2 separate regions of the Homo sapiens genome follow, and region 2 is linked to region 1. Evidence: fine-mapped expression QTL. Tissue or cell type: tibial artery. Region 1 holds a variant in brackets; the other region holds the start of a gene. All regions are shown on one strand. Distances are between the middles of the regions.

Region 1 (8,107 bases):
ATCCCAGCAGTTTGGGAGGCTGAGGCAGGTAGATTGTTTGAGGCCAGGAGTTCAAGACCAGCCTAGGCAACATGGCAAAACACCATCTATACTAAAAATACAAAAATTAGCCTGGTGTGGTGGTGCACACCTGTGGTCCCAGCCACTCTGGTGGCTGAGCTATAAGAATCGCTTGAACCCAGGAGGCGGAGGTTGCAGTGAGCCATGATCACAGCACTGCACTCCAGCCTGGGTGACAGAGAGAGACTCTGTCTCAAAACTAACAAACAAACAACAACAACAAAAGGCAACCCTCTGGTTTGCACAGTTGGCCAGTTTTAGAAGTGTACTCTCATCTTTGCCAATTTCAAACTGCCAACTTGATGTTACTGAACATAGTCTAGAAGAGACTCTCATAGTCGACTCTCACAAACCGACAGAAGCAAGCTCTAGAACATACACATACACACGACTTATGTCTGGGGTGTGTGTGCACGCGTGTGTGTGTGTATGTGTGTGTGTATATGTGTGTATGTGTGTGTGTGTATTGGAGGCTAATGTAATTATTTTGCCTAAAATGTCTACAAAATTGTCTTATGGTCCAGGCATAGTGGCTTACACCTGTAATTCCAGCACTTTGGGAGGCTGGAGCTGGAGAATCACTGGAGACCACGAGTTTGAGACCACTCTGAGCAACATAGCAAGACTCTGTCTTTACAAAACCTAAAAAAATTAGTTGGGGTTGGTGGTGCATGCCTATAGTCTCAGCTACGTGAGAGGCTGAGGAGAGAGGATTACTTGGGTCCAGGAATTCAAGGCTGCAGTGAGCTATGATTGCATCACTGGACTCCAGTCTGGGCTACAGGGGGAGACCCTGTCTCAAAAAAAAAAAAAAAAAAAGCCATATTTACCTTTATTGTTATACTTATCCCAACCACCCTGTATTGATACCTCCTAGTTCCATCCTTTTACTTCAGCCATATAGAGGCAATCAGTTGCTAGCAAGTGTAATCAGTCAACACCTTTCCTCAGATTTCTGGTTACCTTATGGTTACCTATAGCTTTAAACACATTTGTTCAGCCTTAAAGAAATTTTTGGGTTGAAGATTTGGAGTCTTTTTTTTTTTTTTGGTTTAAGAATAACAGCACCAGCCGGGCGCGGTGGCTCACGCCTGTAATCCCAGCACTTTGGGAGGCTGAGGCAGGCAGATCACCTGAGGTTGGTAGTTCAAGACCAGCCTGACCAAAATGGAAAAACCCTGTCTCTACTAAAAATACAAAATTAGCTGGGCATGGTGGCACATGCCTGTAATCCCAGCTACTTGGGAGGCTGAGGCAGGAGAATCGCTTGAAACTGGGAGGCAGAGGTTGCAGTGAGGGGAGATCGTGCCATTGCACTCCAGCCCGGGCAACAAGAGTGAAATTCCATCTCAAAAAAAAAAAAGAATAACAGCACCAAGTTAAGTTGGACTGTTCATCTGGGATAGGTTTCAGATGAACATTTGATTGCCTTTACTACTTCTCACTTCTGTTCCTGGACATATGCCTAATAATTAGATTATTGCTATTTTCCAGGTCTTTGTATTTTATCTGTGGGGAATATAAGCAGTAAGAAAAATGTTCATCAGGGCTCTTAGCAAAGATCAAAGAGGTATTTGAAAGTGTTTTCTAATAATCTGGTAATTGTTTAACAACATGTGAAGTGTTCCAATAGAAACTTCTTATTGCCTCCAGTGGACTTAAAAAAATCAGATTCTGCTTTCTTTTTATTTTCATAGTTACTATTAGTCTAATACTGAGTTAAGTTTGAATGCAAAGTAATAGAATATGAGAACAATTGGATCAACCAATCCTCTTTAAAATGCTTTTCATTTAACAAAATGCCATCAGCATTTAGCCACACAGCAGATTTAATACCCAGTCACTGTGAAGCAACTCAGAGAATAATGGAATGATTTGGAGTGCCGCTGGTGGTTACAGGAAATTTTACAGTGATGTGTTTGGTGTTTAGCTCACAGATTTCTTCCTCAGAAGACTGAATGGTTCTAGCAATGAGCTAGCAACATGACTCCACAAGTTCTTTGAGAAGCCTTTATTCGTGTTGCACAGGATTTCGGCTTCTGGCCTCCTGGAGTTAATTGCAGCCACCAGTCTTTCCTGCAGAGCCAGCTGCTTTTTATGGTCAGAGGAGATAAACAGAGGCTCAATAGGAGATCTATTTCTAGGCATTGAAAGGGCCTCTGTGCCGCTGGTTGAGGGGAAAATCATCCAATCTCCCTCATGAAATGCCTGGACCATTTCTTGGGGCTGTCCTCCTTAAACTGGCACTTCCTGTACCCAGTTTAAATAGTAGATAGGCTAAAAAATATAAGCCTTAAAAAGTCTTAAGGTATGAAATCATGTCTAACTGAGCAAAACAACATTCAAAGTTGGCAAGCTAATATGTGTTCATTCAATGTTGAATTAATGGCCAGTATGGGAAGCATATTAATTGGGGGCGGGGGGGAAAAAAATCACAATTATAACCCAGCAGTTGTCAATAACATTTTCTGGGTTAAGAGTGATTTGCTTGAGGGAAGGGGGAAGGGAGTTTCCATTCATTGAATACTACTTTGGGCTTCCTACACGAACGGTATCCAAAGTACACTTATTCCCATTTTATAGTTGTTAAAGCAAAATTTAACTTTATAAAATTGTAAAAGAGGATTATAATTGCTGTAGTTTGATTTTATTGCATATTATTGGTTATATAATATGGTATAAGTATATGAGAGAGCTGGTTCCCCTCATAGTCAAGGGAAGGAAATTTGGCTCCAGGGTTGAGCACCTGGTCCGAGGCTGCAGCACCCAGGAGGAGGCACAGAAACCAGGTTTTTCGACTCCTGAATCAATGCTCATTTCACTACCCAGACCACCTTATTTATATGATGGAAGTTTCTTGATTAGGAAGCAAGTCAATAACAAAACCCCTAGTTTCAGTTGTAGCATTAAGAATAAATATCTTCTTTCACAATGATTTTTATTTCTGAAAAGAAATAGCCTTCTGTCAAGAAACAATGCACTTTTAAGATATTTTTCACTATTACCAATTGATTACATAAAAATGCATACTGTAGAAGGAGATAGAACGATTTGATTCCAGCTCTAGGAAATAAATGTGCTGCTCAAATGATTTTCTAATAAGATAGCATCTGCTTATATTGCTATTTAAAAACTATTTAGGTCCATTTAAATTAGTTAGAATCACCTTCACAAATAGGAGTGTGCCTTTAAATTCAATGCATTACATATGGAAATAGGTTCTCTAAGGTTTACAGACTTTTGAATTTTAGTGTAAGATGTTGTCGCCTTTGTTCTGTAATAAAAACACACACATTTTCTAGAAGGAAAACTCTGCCTGTATCAAATTGGTTGTATGTCCCCTGCATCCTAAAACCAGATTATTCCGAGGAACAGTGGATGTGGAGTGGGTTTTCTACCATGGAAGGCTGGGGTGCTCCCTGGACTGTGCTGTGGCCTGTCCTAGGGCCCCTGCTATTGTTGGGTTGGCTGTCCCAATCCTCCAGGGAAGTCCATATAGGGAAGAAGGGAATGTGTTCTTTCATTCCTTCAAAAATATTTGTTGAGTCATTGATTACTATGTGTTAGACACTGTTCTAGTTACGGAAGCAGCACATACCAGACATTTTAAAGTCCCAACAACCCTTTCCCATA[G/A]GTCTATTATAATTTTATAGATGAAGAATCTGACATACAAAGAGATTAAGTAACTTGCCCCAGGTCCCTGAGCTAAAAGGTAGTAAAAACTGGAGCCTAAATTTGTATGGGCCCAATGTCTATGTTCTTTCTATCATGTCTAGTGTACATGTGTATATATATATATGTGTGTATATATATATACACACACATACACACACACATATATGTACACACACACTTATATATATCACATTTAGGACATACTTATACTAAAAATTACTGCTTGTCTATCTGAAATTAAAATTTAACTGAGTGTATTATATTTAATTGGGCAACCCCTTGGAAGTGTTTTTCAGGGCCAGCAATGAGGCAACAGGATATTATCACGTTTCCCTTATTTCTTTCCTTTGCATGTTTCAAAGTAAATTGCATACACACAGAAATTCAAAGACGCTTTAAGAAATCTTTTGCTCAAGAAGAACAGTATTTTGTTTTGAAGGATGTAATTGAAACGAGGAAACTAGGAAAGCATGCAGCTTTCCTTCCTTTTTTTTCCCTTTTCCTTCCTCTCTCTTTTCTGTTATTACTCTCTTTCTTTTCTTTTACTTTTTACTTCCTTTCTTCCTTCTCCCTTTGTAGAGCACATATTAAGGGCCAGGACTTGTGCCCTGTTGGGGATAATTGTCCCTGCCTTGAAGGAACACAAAGACCTGAAGGAAACTGTGAAAAGTGCTGTAATAGGTTGAATGGTGTCTTCCCAAAAGTTAATGTCCTCTTGGAACCTCAGAATGTGACTTTATTTGAAATAGGGTGTTTGTGGATGTAATTGTAGTATTTAAGTGAAGGTCTGTATTCCTTTGTTAGGGCTGTCATAACAAGGTACCACAGACCTGGAGTGGGAGGGACTTAAACAATAGAAAGTTATTTTCTCACAGTTCTGGAGGCTAGAAGTCTAAGATCAAGGTGTAAACAGGGTTGATTTCCTCTGAGGCCTCTCTCCTTGGCTTGCAGTTGGCCATCTTTTCTTTATGTCTTCAGCATGAACTTTCCTCTGTGTATGCCTGTGTCCCAATCTCCTCTTATGAGGATGCCAGTCATATTGGGTTAGGGCCCACCCGTATGACCTCATTCTACCTTACTTAGTTCCCTGTGTCAAGATTCTATCTCCAAATACAGTCACAGCCTGAGGCTGTGGGGATTAGGACTTCAACATATGAATTTAGAGAGAACACATTTCTGCCCCAAAGATGACACTGGATAAGGTTGGGTCCTATATCCAATGACTGAAGTGAAGTGAAGATACAGCAAGTCAAAGAATGCCAAGGATTGCTGGCAACCACCAGAAGCGAGGAGAGAGACAAAAAACAGATTCTCCTTCAGAGCCTCCAGAAGGAAACAGTGCTGCTGACACTTTGATTTCAGACTTCAGGCCTCTCTATGAGAGAATTAAGTTTGTTGTTGTAACCCACCCAGTTTGTGGTATTTTGCTACTTCTACCCTAGAAAACTAATACAAGTGCCTTGCTCAGTGGTGATTTACAAAGAGTCCTTAACAGAGGGGGCCATGGTGATGCACCCTGGATGGTACAGGCAGGATGGCATCTAGCAGGAGAAAATGCTGGGGCTGAGGACGATGGAGAAGTAGGAGTTAGGAGGAGGAGGAGGAGGAGGAGGAGGAGGAGGAGGAGGAGGTAGAGACCCAGCCTATGGGAGTATGCAGATGCACAGCTGCTTGACAGGGCCTGTCTGGATTACAGAAATAATAGAACTGAACAGTTGGAACTAACTTTAAATATAGGTTACATGGACCCACATTTCATTGCTGAAAGAGATCTTAGAGACTACCCTTGCACTCCTTGATTTTAGACCAAAGTCTGGGAAGGTATGTGGCTATGCCAATATCACAGAGCAAATTAATGTAAGAATTCAAGATAGGAATCCATTTGTCCTAAATCTTTGCCTAGTACTCTCCACAAGACCAGGATTGGAGCCCAGCCTTCACCAAGATCCACATACAGGGTATGTCTAATAACACAGGAGGGGCCCTAAACATGCTTACTACTACTACTACTACTAATAAACTGAATAAGTAATGTTGAATAAACTTTCAATGAATTGAATGTCAGAAAGAAAATAACTGGTATTATGCTATGTACTTTCATATACACTGTCTCATTTGATGGGAACAAAAACTTCTATCTGTTGTGTTATTATTCCCCAATTTCCAATTACTCTTTTAGAGTTGCAGATGTCAAAGGACAGTTTGGGTACCCTGCCTCAGAGTCCCTGGTTAACAAGAGAAGGGCTCTGAGAAGCAGTCTAGCTTGATAGCTCAGGGCTCCCAGGCCCAGGTTTAGATCACACCTCTGTCCTTGCAGACTCTGTGATGGGGGAGGTTATTCAGTCTCTGTCAAGGCTAATAAATAATGCAACAACGGTGATTCTAATAGTTTAAAACGGATCAGGATACCCTGATGTAGTGGGAAAAAACTTGCCCTTGGTATTCAAATCAGATTGATGATGCAACTCTGTCCTGACTTCACTTTCCTCATCTCTGAAATGGGAATAATGTTTATCTCATAGGGTTGTGAGGATTTTCCAGGAAAATCGCACACAACCCCGCACGTTTCTACTTGTTAAAGGAACTCAGCCGAAATTCTTGCCAGCTTTCGTCCCGACCCCATCCCCAGGGCTCCTCCTGGTTCCTGGTGGGCCCTCTTTCCTAGTCTATTTTTTTTAACTTTCTCTTCGTTTTGTCTTTCCTTTCTCTCTCCCTTTCATCTCCTTCTCCCCCCGTTACTTTTCTTTTGGGTTACCTTTTTAATGAGATGTAGAAAATGTATCAGCAGGTTTATGAAAAGTGAACTGGCAGATGGAAGATGTCACCATGACACTGAGGAAAACTGTTTTCTAACCCCCACCAAAGTAATTTAATTTACACATTTACTTCCTCAAAAAAAGAAAAAAAAAAGCTTTTATGCTTTCAGCACGCAGGCAATGGAGACAGCCTCGGGTCGTGTTGCCCACACGCAGGTGCTGCTAGCTGCCTCCCAGTCGCTCTCCTCGCGCATCTTCCCAGGGGACATCCGCCCTCCCGGGACTGTGCTCCGGACAGCGGGGGAGGGCAGAGGGAGGGGCAGGGAGGTGACAAGCAGCGCCCCGCAGTGTGCACCGTGCGCTTCACTCCGCGCTCCTCTCCGTGCACCCAGACCCAGAGCAGCCCCGCCCGGCAGCCAGCACAACTGCCCCGCGCCACAGGCCGCCGGCCTCTGCTTGCCAGGGCTGCGGGGGAAGAACATGCCCCCGTGCACTAGCTCCGCGTTCCCGAAGGAAGGTTTTCGCAGCCATGGGCAGTGGGCCTTTAGTCTCCCGCTCCGTGCAGTGGGAAGGGATCAACTGAGCGGCGCGGAGCCATCAGTGGTCTCTGCGTGGAGGCTGCAGCCCCGCCGACGCCCTCGCCTTCGCCCTCGCCCCCGCCCCCGCCCCCGCCCTCTATACTGTGGACAAAGGCAATCCGGATTTGTTTTTGTTTTCGTGGTTTTCTTTGTTGATGATGGGAGCTGGAAACTGGGGAGGAGAGAATTTTGCAGTTGTGAAAGGGCATCTCTCTCTTCCCTTACTTATTATTTTCTTCAAAGATAACAGAATTTCCCCATGGCAGGAACCGCAGACTGGCAAGCAGGAGACCTGAGTTTGAGTTGAGCCTTTGCTATGTGACCTCAAACAAACCATTGAACTGTATTTTTTATTTTTTATTTTTTAGTTTAGCTGGGCTTAGCTTTGTTGTTTTCTTTCCCACATTGTTTATAAAACGAGGATACTAATAACACCACAGAGGGGTTGTAAGGATTACATACACGTGAACAGACTATGTGAACGCATAGTAGGCGCTAGATAAAGATTTGTTTTGAAATTATCCATAACAACACCTCCAATATAAGGAATAAGAGACCTAGGAAGCCCAGAGAGGGCAAGTTAGCATGCCAGTTGGAGGATGAAAACCAAGGCTGGAACTAAGGTTTCCCATTTCCAGCTTCGTGTTCTTCCCATTTCCCACTCTTCCGCTGATTCTAACCTAGTGCACTTACAACTCTGGAGAAGGGAGACCCAGTTGGAATCCCTGGCTTCACCATTCTGAAGTTGAGGCGTCTTGGGCACGTCTCTTATAAAACTTTTTTGTTTTATAGTTTTGTAATTTGTTCCTCAAACGTTTCAATGCCTATGATGTACCTGCCAGTTACCATAGACGGTGGAGGGGACCCAAAAATGAATAGAACATGATCCGTGACCTCATGGAATTCACGTTCTTGCTAGAGGGCCTCATGCATAATATAAGCAAAAATAAATAACCAATCTGTTGGTGATTATATTAATAGAGCATGGTGGAAGGAAGAGTTCTGTTTAATGTCGGGGGTTGGGGGGGATCCCAATGT
Region 2 (8,107 bases), 140 kb after region 1:
TGTCTAAAAATCCATATTCCTATCTTCCAAGTTGACATCTTCTTTCAAAGAACTGTGCATCTCCTTTTACAAAAATATTCAGTTAACCAGGCAATAGTCCAACTCACATTTAATATGCAATTTAATGTTGGCATAAAATGTTTAATAGGGACTCTTTTATTTTCTTAAATGATGTTAAATAATGCACTATGTGGCACAAACTAAAAGAAATGGTGGAAAAAAGTCACTAATAACTCTTTATCTCAATACATCATTTTTTTCAAAAGGTCTTAAGAACCCTGAAAGTTTAGGCTTGACACATTTGCTTCTGTCAAACCTAAGAGACCTTTTAAGATGAGAAAGAAAGCACTCACTATGCCCTTTTGATGTGGTTCAGTAGGGCAACAAAATAACCATGCAGTTTGACTTTGTTTTGCTTTGGAACTGGTGGGTTATTACAGGTTGTCTGCAATTACATTTCATTGATGAGGAAATTAAGGCATAGAGAGGTTAAGTGACAGAGAAACACAACCTTTGAGTAGAGGGACCATAGAATTGACACAGATCAAAAATATTACAACCACAATCCTGTATTTTTAACCAACTAAAAAAGGCTATTTTATGTATAAGCTCAAAGTTTATCTAAGCTCTTAAATTCTAAGTTTAATAACCAACTTAGCAAACCTGTTACTTTTGTCCGCTTTAAGCCCTTTGTCTTTTGTCTTAAGTATCAAGAAGCTCAGAATAGAATTTAGTGCCAATGCAGAACACCACTTCCTAGCCTTGGTTTCTGGGGCAATCTCAGGCCTTTCAAAAATTCAGTAGGTTTTAGTTGCCCATCTGTTATATACCAGACAACGCTGTAGATGCTAAAGATACAGACCTGTACAAATAATGTGAAAACTTCTGTCTTGACTTAATTACTTAAGTGTAAGACAGAGTATGTTAGTGCTATGGAGAAAATAAAAAGCAGGAAAAAAGAGAGAGAGCGTGGGGTGAGGCTCAATTTTTAAAAGGGTGGTCAGTGAAAGTCACAGGGCATGACATTTGAATATAGCCCTGAAAAGGAGTGCAGTGAGCAGATAAGAGGGCCATGGAGGGAACCTTCCTGGAACAGGGAAAACCAAGTACAAAAGCCCTGAGGTGAAAGCATGCCCGGTATCTATGACTCATCTTTTTGTTGCTGTTTATTATTTTAAATAATGTATATTCTTCTTTTTTTTTGAGAGGAGTCTCACTCTGTTGCCCAGGCTGGAGTGCAATCATGTGATCTTGGCTCACTGCAACCTCTGCCTCCTGGGTTCAAGTGATTCTTCTGCCTCAGCCTTCCAAGTAGCTGGGATTACAGGCATGCGCCACCATGCCCAGCTAATTTTGTATTTTTAGTAGAGACGGGGTTTCACCATGTTGGTCAGGCTGGTCTTGAACTCCCGATCTCAGGTGATCCACCTGCCTCAGCCTCCCAAAGTGCTGGGATTACAGGCGTGAGCCACCGCACCCGGCCAATAATGTGTATTATTATTTATTGAAAGTCCCAGCAAATACTTTGGAAGAAGGTCAGGCACATACATACAATCAGAAATGCTGCAGACAAGCTTCAGATACTGTGTCACTGCAGAGGAGTTTTTAGTGGTTGTACTGTACACTGCAATGACCACTTGACTATGTCCCTCTGTCTCCCTACTACCATTACTAAAACTTCCTAAAACTAACTTATGAGGTTTAATAAAGAAAAAGAAAACTGCTTTGGGGAAAGGGCCCACCATAAGGAAATCAAACTGCTAGGTAAAGTACCCCAAGCCACAATGACTACCTCCCTTGAATTTCTGGAATGTGTATCCAGCATTTAACAGGAAGTGCTATCTGGAATTGTTACTCTATTGACATCTCATCCCATGCTACCTTGTATTGTTCTTTTGTACACATCTGCTCTCACAGTGACTTCCCTGGAGGCGGGCTTATATTTTGGAAATGTCTGAATCCCATCGCAGGGCAGCGAAATCTGTTTTGAGGATGATGATACAGAAACTACCACAACCAGCAGCAGACATTCCTCCTGTTTTAAGAATCTCTGTAGATAAAGCATGAAAGAAACAACAGTCTCTCAGAGGCTTTTAAATAATCCCAACTATTTTAGCCAACTTACTGTTTATGTAACATACCGTTTTAAGTCTTTGTTTGCATTTTTAGTTAGGGACTGTACACACTTTCAGTCTAGACCCAAGCATGAGTTAGCCAAAAAACATAGAGGAATCACATGGTACGGAGCCCTGTTCAGTTTGTCCCAGCCAATGTTATTAAAAACACTATGATGGGCAAGGGACTCAACATGAAGCTACCACATATGGGACTCTAAGACATTGTCCAGACAGTCTAACAAGACAAGCAGACACGAAAGAAACAACTTCAGTGCATGTAAGATAATATAAGATACTGTGAAAGTATATAAGCAGTGACTTGGAGGGTGAGGCAACGCTTCACAGAAGAGTTGGCACCTGAACACACAGGGTTTTGAAAGATGAATAGGCCTAGGACAATTGGACACAGGATCAAAGGGCATCCAGGATTGTGCAAAACACTGGCAGAAACATCACAGATTGAAAACTGCTGGAAGAACGCATTCACCGTCAGTGAAGGAAAGCTGGTCTGGTGCACTCTCAAGCTTTCCAAGAAAAAAAACCAAGTTTTCAAATAAAAGCAGAGGAGGAAAGTTTCACCAGTGCTTGTTCTGAGAAACCTCTTAGCCTCTCTTTGCTTTGTTTTGCTCTTTCTGTTTTGCTTCCCTCTTAAAGAGTGCTGGCTTAAAACCTCAGTGAAAGAAAAGTACTTCAACTTTACTGTGGAAAAAGGAAACTGAAAAGTAGGCAAAGGCCAAGGGATACATTTTTTTAAACATTCACTCTTTCCTGGAATATACAAATGAAGCAAAATTACAAATTCATGTATTATGGGTCTGAAATATTTATTCCAATTCTTTTCTCCACCAGCTCCATAAATATTTATTCTATGCCCACTGCTTGTTAGTTTCTGGGATACCAGGCCGATGAGGCAGTCTCTTCCTCTCCTCCTTTGAGCAAGCTTGTGCTTGCAATCCTGTATAAGAAATAAGAGGAGGGCAACAACTTGTATCTTGTGCCTTCTACACATGCCAACCATAGCCTGAAGTTCACAGCAAAGTTAAATTCCAGTTAAGTAAACCAGTGAGGTCATAATACACTTAAATAACAACTGAGACGTGAGAAACTAACAGAGATCCTCAGTAAGTGTGTCGGTCACCTCTTCGCGCGAGCAGGGAGATCAGATCGAGAGCAGGACCTCCTCGCCAGTGATTTGGAATGATAAATGGGGAAGAGAAGGGGGTGAAGTTACCTGGGCGCTCAGGTAGACTTTGAGGCACTCCTCGCACACGGCCTTCTTGCAGCAAGGCAGGGGCTTGATGGGCTTGTCTTCCAGGCACACCCGGCACATCAGCACCATGAGGGGCACATAGGGATCCCCTACACCGCCCAGGCCAGAGTAGGGTGGAGCTCCCAACAGGCTGGGCATGGAGAACGGCTCGGGCGCCAGGTAGAACTCCAGCTCGATGCTGCCGCCGTCGGGGGAGAGGGAATCCGTTGGGAGGGACAGTCGGGGGCTGGGGAAGGAAGAGCGGGTGCTGGGAGGGTTCAACACTGGCGGAGCCCCAGGTGGCGACGCGGGCGGCGAGAGCTGCTCCGAGGCGGGGGCCTCGGGCAGGTCGCTCTCCACGCAGTACACGGAGCAGAAGACTTGTCTCTTGGCGAGGGACGGGCGCCGCTGACCCAGCACGTCCAGGACCAGTCCGTCGGCGGCCCCCACGCGGGTCCTGGGCTCCAGCTCTTCGCCGGGGGGCGCCTCCTGCTGTTCATCCCCTCCCTCTTTTCGATCCCCAGCTTCCTCCTCTTCCTCCTCCAGCTCCAACTGCAGTGGCAAGGTCTGGGGATTGAGAGGCCCGGTGAGTGCCAGTCCCGCAGGCTGCGCCGGTGCTCGGCTCTTACTCCAGCCCGGGGGCCCCAGGCTCCTCGCGGGCTCTGGGGCGCTGGTGTCCGCGCAGCCCCAGTCGCTTCCGCAGCCACCGCCGCTCGGCTCCGCGGAGGCGGCGCGCAGCGGGGGCGCCCGGGCGCTGTCCCCCTGAGGCCTCGGGGGCTCAGGGTGGCCCGCAGTGCCACTGGCCAGGGTCTGCGACTCCTGGGGCCCGCCGCCGCCGCTCACCGTGCTCTGCTCCTCGCCCATCGCCGCCCGCGGCCCGCGCCGCCGCTGCCCATCCAGCCGCCGGGACCCCCACCCGGCGCCCGCGGGCAGCGGGGGCAGTGGCTCGGCTCGACTCGCGGCTCCGCTTCTGCTTCCGGGTCCTTCCTCCTGGGCTGGGACGCCCCAAGTCCCCTCCGGGGAGCCCGTGCTCCGAGGCTGCGGCGCGTGGGGAGCCTGGCCCGGCCCGCCGCTCCTCCTCGTACTCTGGCGCGGCGGGGCACCGCCTCGGGGGCGCCGAGGGCCGCTCGCTCTGGGCTCGGGCGCGCCCGCCCCACATGCAGCTCGGGGCGGCGCCGCAGCCCCAGCGAGCCCCAGGCGGGACAGAGGGGTCTGGGAGGAGACGGCCGTCAGTCCCGCGCCATCACCGGTCCCGGCTGCCGGACGCGCGGCCCGAGGGCGGTGGTCAAAGGGTCGAGGGGCCTGTGGCGCCGCCGCGGCGCGCACCAGGAGGTGCAGCCGGAGCGCTGGCCAGCCGCAGGGCCCCTGGGGGAGAGGCCGGAGCGGGCGACCTCCCTCTCCCCGCGCTTCACCTACAGCCCTCCTCGCCGCCCCTCACCCCACCCCTTTGGCGCACACCTCCCCACACGTACACACGCGCGCAGGCACCCGCGCACACACACACGCACACCCTGAGTGGGTGTGATCTAAGAGCTGAGATGCGCTTTCTCGCCCGGAGTTCACACTCAGCCTCAACAAAACCCTCAGAGCAGGCAGGCTCCCCTTTGGTCTCCGCATTCAGTAGAACTTCCTACAAAACTACACTCAGCTCTGGAATTAGTAAACGCTGGCTATTTAGGATGTCGAGTTCAGAGAAATAATGCTAAGGATTATGAATTCTAAATGCTGTATATTACAACTCTGTTTTTCTGCCTAGTGGAGTAGGAAGAATCTTCGAAACCCATAAATAATCGAAAAAGCACTTTCGATCTACTCCTCCAACTGGAATCCTTAGAAGAGTTGATAACTAATTTAAAATTTCTCTCTTTTTCTTCGCCTACAGTGTTCTCTTAGAAGTTTTTTTTTTTAACCCTTTTCAGCATTCCAAAATGGATAGCACAAGGTGGAAAAATGTCCTGACCTAATTAATAAACTGGATCATTAGTGGAAATCATGGGCAGTTTCATTAGCATAACCATATTTATCCTCAAAACTGTTTCCAAAACAACAATTATATGTGAGCCAGGACTTAATTATGTGTTGATCTATCTTTATTTTACAGGAAGTATTACTCACCCAGACACTGGTGTTTTAGTTCCCTAAAGCCAGTGAAAACATTTTTGGGAAGCCAGCCCTTGTTTTGTTTTTTTTCTCCTGAGAGGGAATTCAATTTACACATTCATGTAATAGCAAGGAACTGTAAAGTGTGTAGAATTTTATTTTTTAATCTCGAAGTTGTTATTGGGTTGTTCTAAAATATTTTCCAAATCAGATGCAAATGATACAAAGGTGACTAGCGATGCAAACTAAGAAAGCAGTGTAATGCCAAAGAACATTTCCATCATATATGTGTGTCTGAGGCTCAGTTGCAAGCAAAGGTATGAATTGGATGTCTAAATGCCATGTCATCTATCGGTCTGACCCAAGAATGGAAAATTCTTATTTTGAAGATTAAATGCTATTCGAGGATTCTTTTCTTTTTTATCTCAGCTAAGTGATTTCCTGGTAACTGCTGTTTTCTCCAAATGATACTTTAAGTGCTTATTGTTTTAAAGACAGAGACAAGAAACCTACTTATGTGTGCCTTTTGAGTGTGCCATCTGATGACCAAGCCACTATTCTTTCCAGAGATATAAAAGTAATCTGCATTTTCCAGGTGACAACAGGCTAAGACCAGAGTAACAATAATGGATGCCAAAAAGTATATTCCCACAGCGTCTATTGGAATAAAACCCCTCAAAGTCCTCTTATAGTTTTGGGAACCCCTCCTCACACACATTTTTCACTCGTATTCTGAGAACTTGTTCTTCCAGTGTTTACCATTTTATTCCTTATCCCTTAGGTTCCAGCTTACTGGAAGTGGCTGTCCTCTACACCAAACCCATTAGAAGTCCCTGCTGGGACTCATGATGGCCGCCCATATCTCTGCTGCTTAAAACTGCAGCCCTTTATTTTGCCATGACTTCTTCCCTACAGAATTCATTGGGCCTTTGTGAAAATAGAATAATATGTGGTTCCCTATTTCCACCCTCCAAATTGGCCCAAACTTGCCTGAATCCTTGACCCACCACCCCTGGCATTCAATCTAGTGCTCATGGGACTCCAGCAGCATGGAAGTGAATTAAATTGAAAAGTTAACATCGTGGTTCCACAATGAATTTTCTCTGAAGTGCATGAAGCACCAGTAATGATTGTTTCGATGGGATTAATTATTTAAAGAAGGATTGGTTGAAAATATTTTATTAACCAATATTTAATATTTTAGCAAAAATTCCATTTATCTGCCACAAGCTTAATATTCTCAAAACTCAAACCATCTGCTCCATCTCAGGTTGTACACAACTGTTGATACAACGTAAGTACTATCACTAATATCCTGCTCCTACCAACATAAAGCCTCAAAATGTCCTAATCTGCAGTGAACTGTGTACCTTCCCTAAAATCCAGACTTCAATATCAGAAAACTATGTCAGTTTTAGAATGCTGTTTTTTCTATTATTGCCTTTCTTATCCTGGCATTAAAACATGACTTCTTTTTGGCTCCCTTCAATTTTTTTAAATCATTTTTATTAATGCATAATATTTGAACATATTTGTGGGATATATGTGATATTTTGATATATGCATACCATGTGTGATGATCAAATAAAGGTACACAGGATATTCATCACCTTGAACAGTTATCATTTCTTTGTGTTGGAAACATTTCAAATATTCTCTTCTAGCTGTTTTAAAATATACAATATATAGCTATAGTCAGCCTACTGTGCTATTGAACACTAGAACTTAGTCCTTCTATCTAAGTATATGTTTGTATACATATAACCAACTTCTCTTCATCTGCCCCTGTGTTTCCAGCCTCTGGGAACTATCATTCTCCTTTCTACTTCCATGAGATCAACTTTTTAAACTCCCATATATCAAGAACATGTGATATTTGTCTTTCTGTGCCTGCCTTATTTCACTTAACATAATGATCTCTAGTGCCATCCATGTTGCTGTAAATGACAAAATTTCATTTTTTATGGCTAAATAGTATTTTATTGAATATACATACCATATTTTCTTTATCCATTCATCTGTTGATAGACACTTAGGTTGATTCCATATCAACCTCTTGTAAATAGTGCTATAATAAATATAGGGGTGCAGATGTCACTTTGATTTACTGATTTCCTTTCCTGCTACTGGATAAATACCCAGTAATGAGATTGCTGGATCATATGGTAGTTATATTTTTAGTTTTTTGAGAAACTTCCAGACTATTTTCTATAATGACTATACATATTTATGTTCCCATCAAGAGTGTATAAAATTTCCCTCTTCTATGCATCCTGGCCACCTTTTGTTATTTTTTGTCTTTTTGATAATAGTCATTCTAACTGTGGTAAGATGATGTCTCATTGTGGTTTTGATCTGCATTTCTCTGGTGATTGATGATGCTGGGCATTTTTTAAATAAACTTGTTAGCCATTTGTATGACTTCTTTTGAGAAAGAAAGTCTATATAAAAGAAAGTCTTTTGAGTTGATTTTTGTGATCAACTGTGTGAGTGATAGGTGTCTAGTTTCATTCTTATGCATAGGGATTTCCAGTTTTCTCGGCATCATTTATTGAAGAGAATGTCTTTTCCCCAATGTTTATTCTTGGCACCTTTGTTGGAAATTAGTTGGCCATAAATATGTGGACTTAATAATATTTCT

What was found. PIP is the estimated chance that this variant, and not a neighbour inherited with it, causes the effect.
Region 2: it holds the start of RNF217-AS1, and the variant in region 1 is fine-mapped to the expression of RNF217-AS1 in tibial artery (GTEx, PIP above 0.99). The same link has a PIP of 0.9 or more in aorta.

Annotation. Positions count from the first base shown.
Region 1 is chr6:125,098,573-125,106,679 of GRCh38, reverse strand. No RefSeq gene overlaps it. Among named protein-coding and RNA genes, the nearest start is that of TPD52L1, 51 kb to the left of the region's middle. RefSeq lists a silencer at 1,041-1,274. The variant G/A (reference allele first, on the strand shown) is at 3,694.
Region 2 is chr6:124,958,668-124,966,774 of GRCh38, reverse strand. RNF217-AS1 (RNF217 antisense RNA 1) reads left to right here and starts at 3,748. Exons shown (of 7, transcript NR_026876.1): 1 at 3,748-3,952. RNF217 (ring finger protein 217) reads right to left here and starts at 4,338. Exons shown (of 6, transcript NM_001286398.3): 1 at 3,349-4,338. The coding sequence starts at 4,230.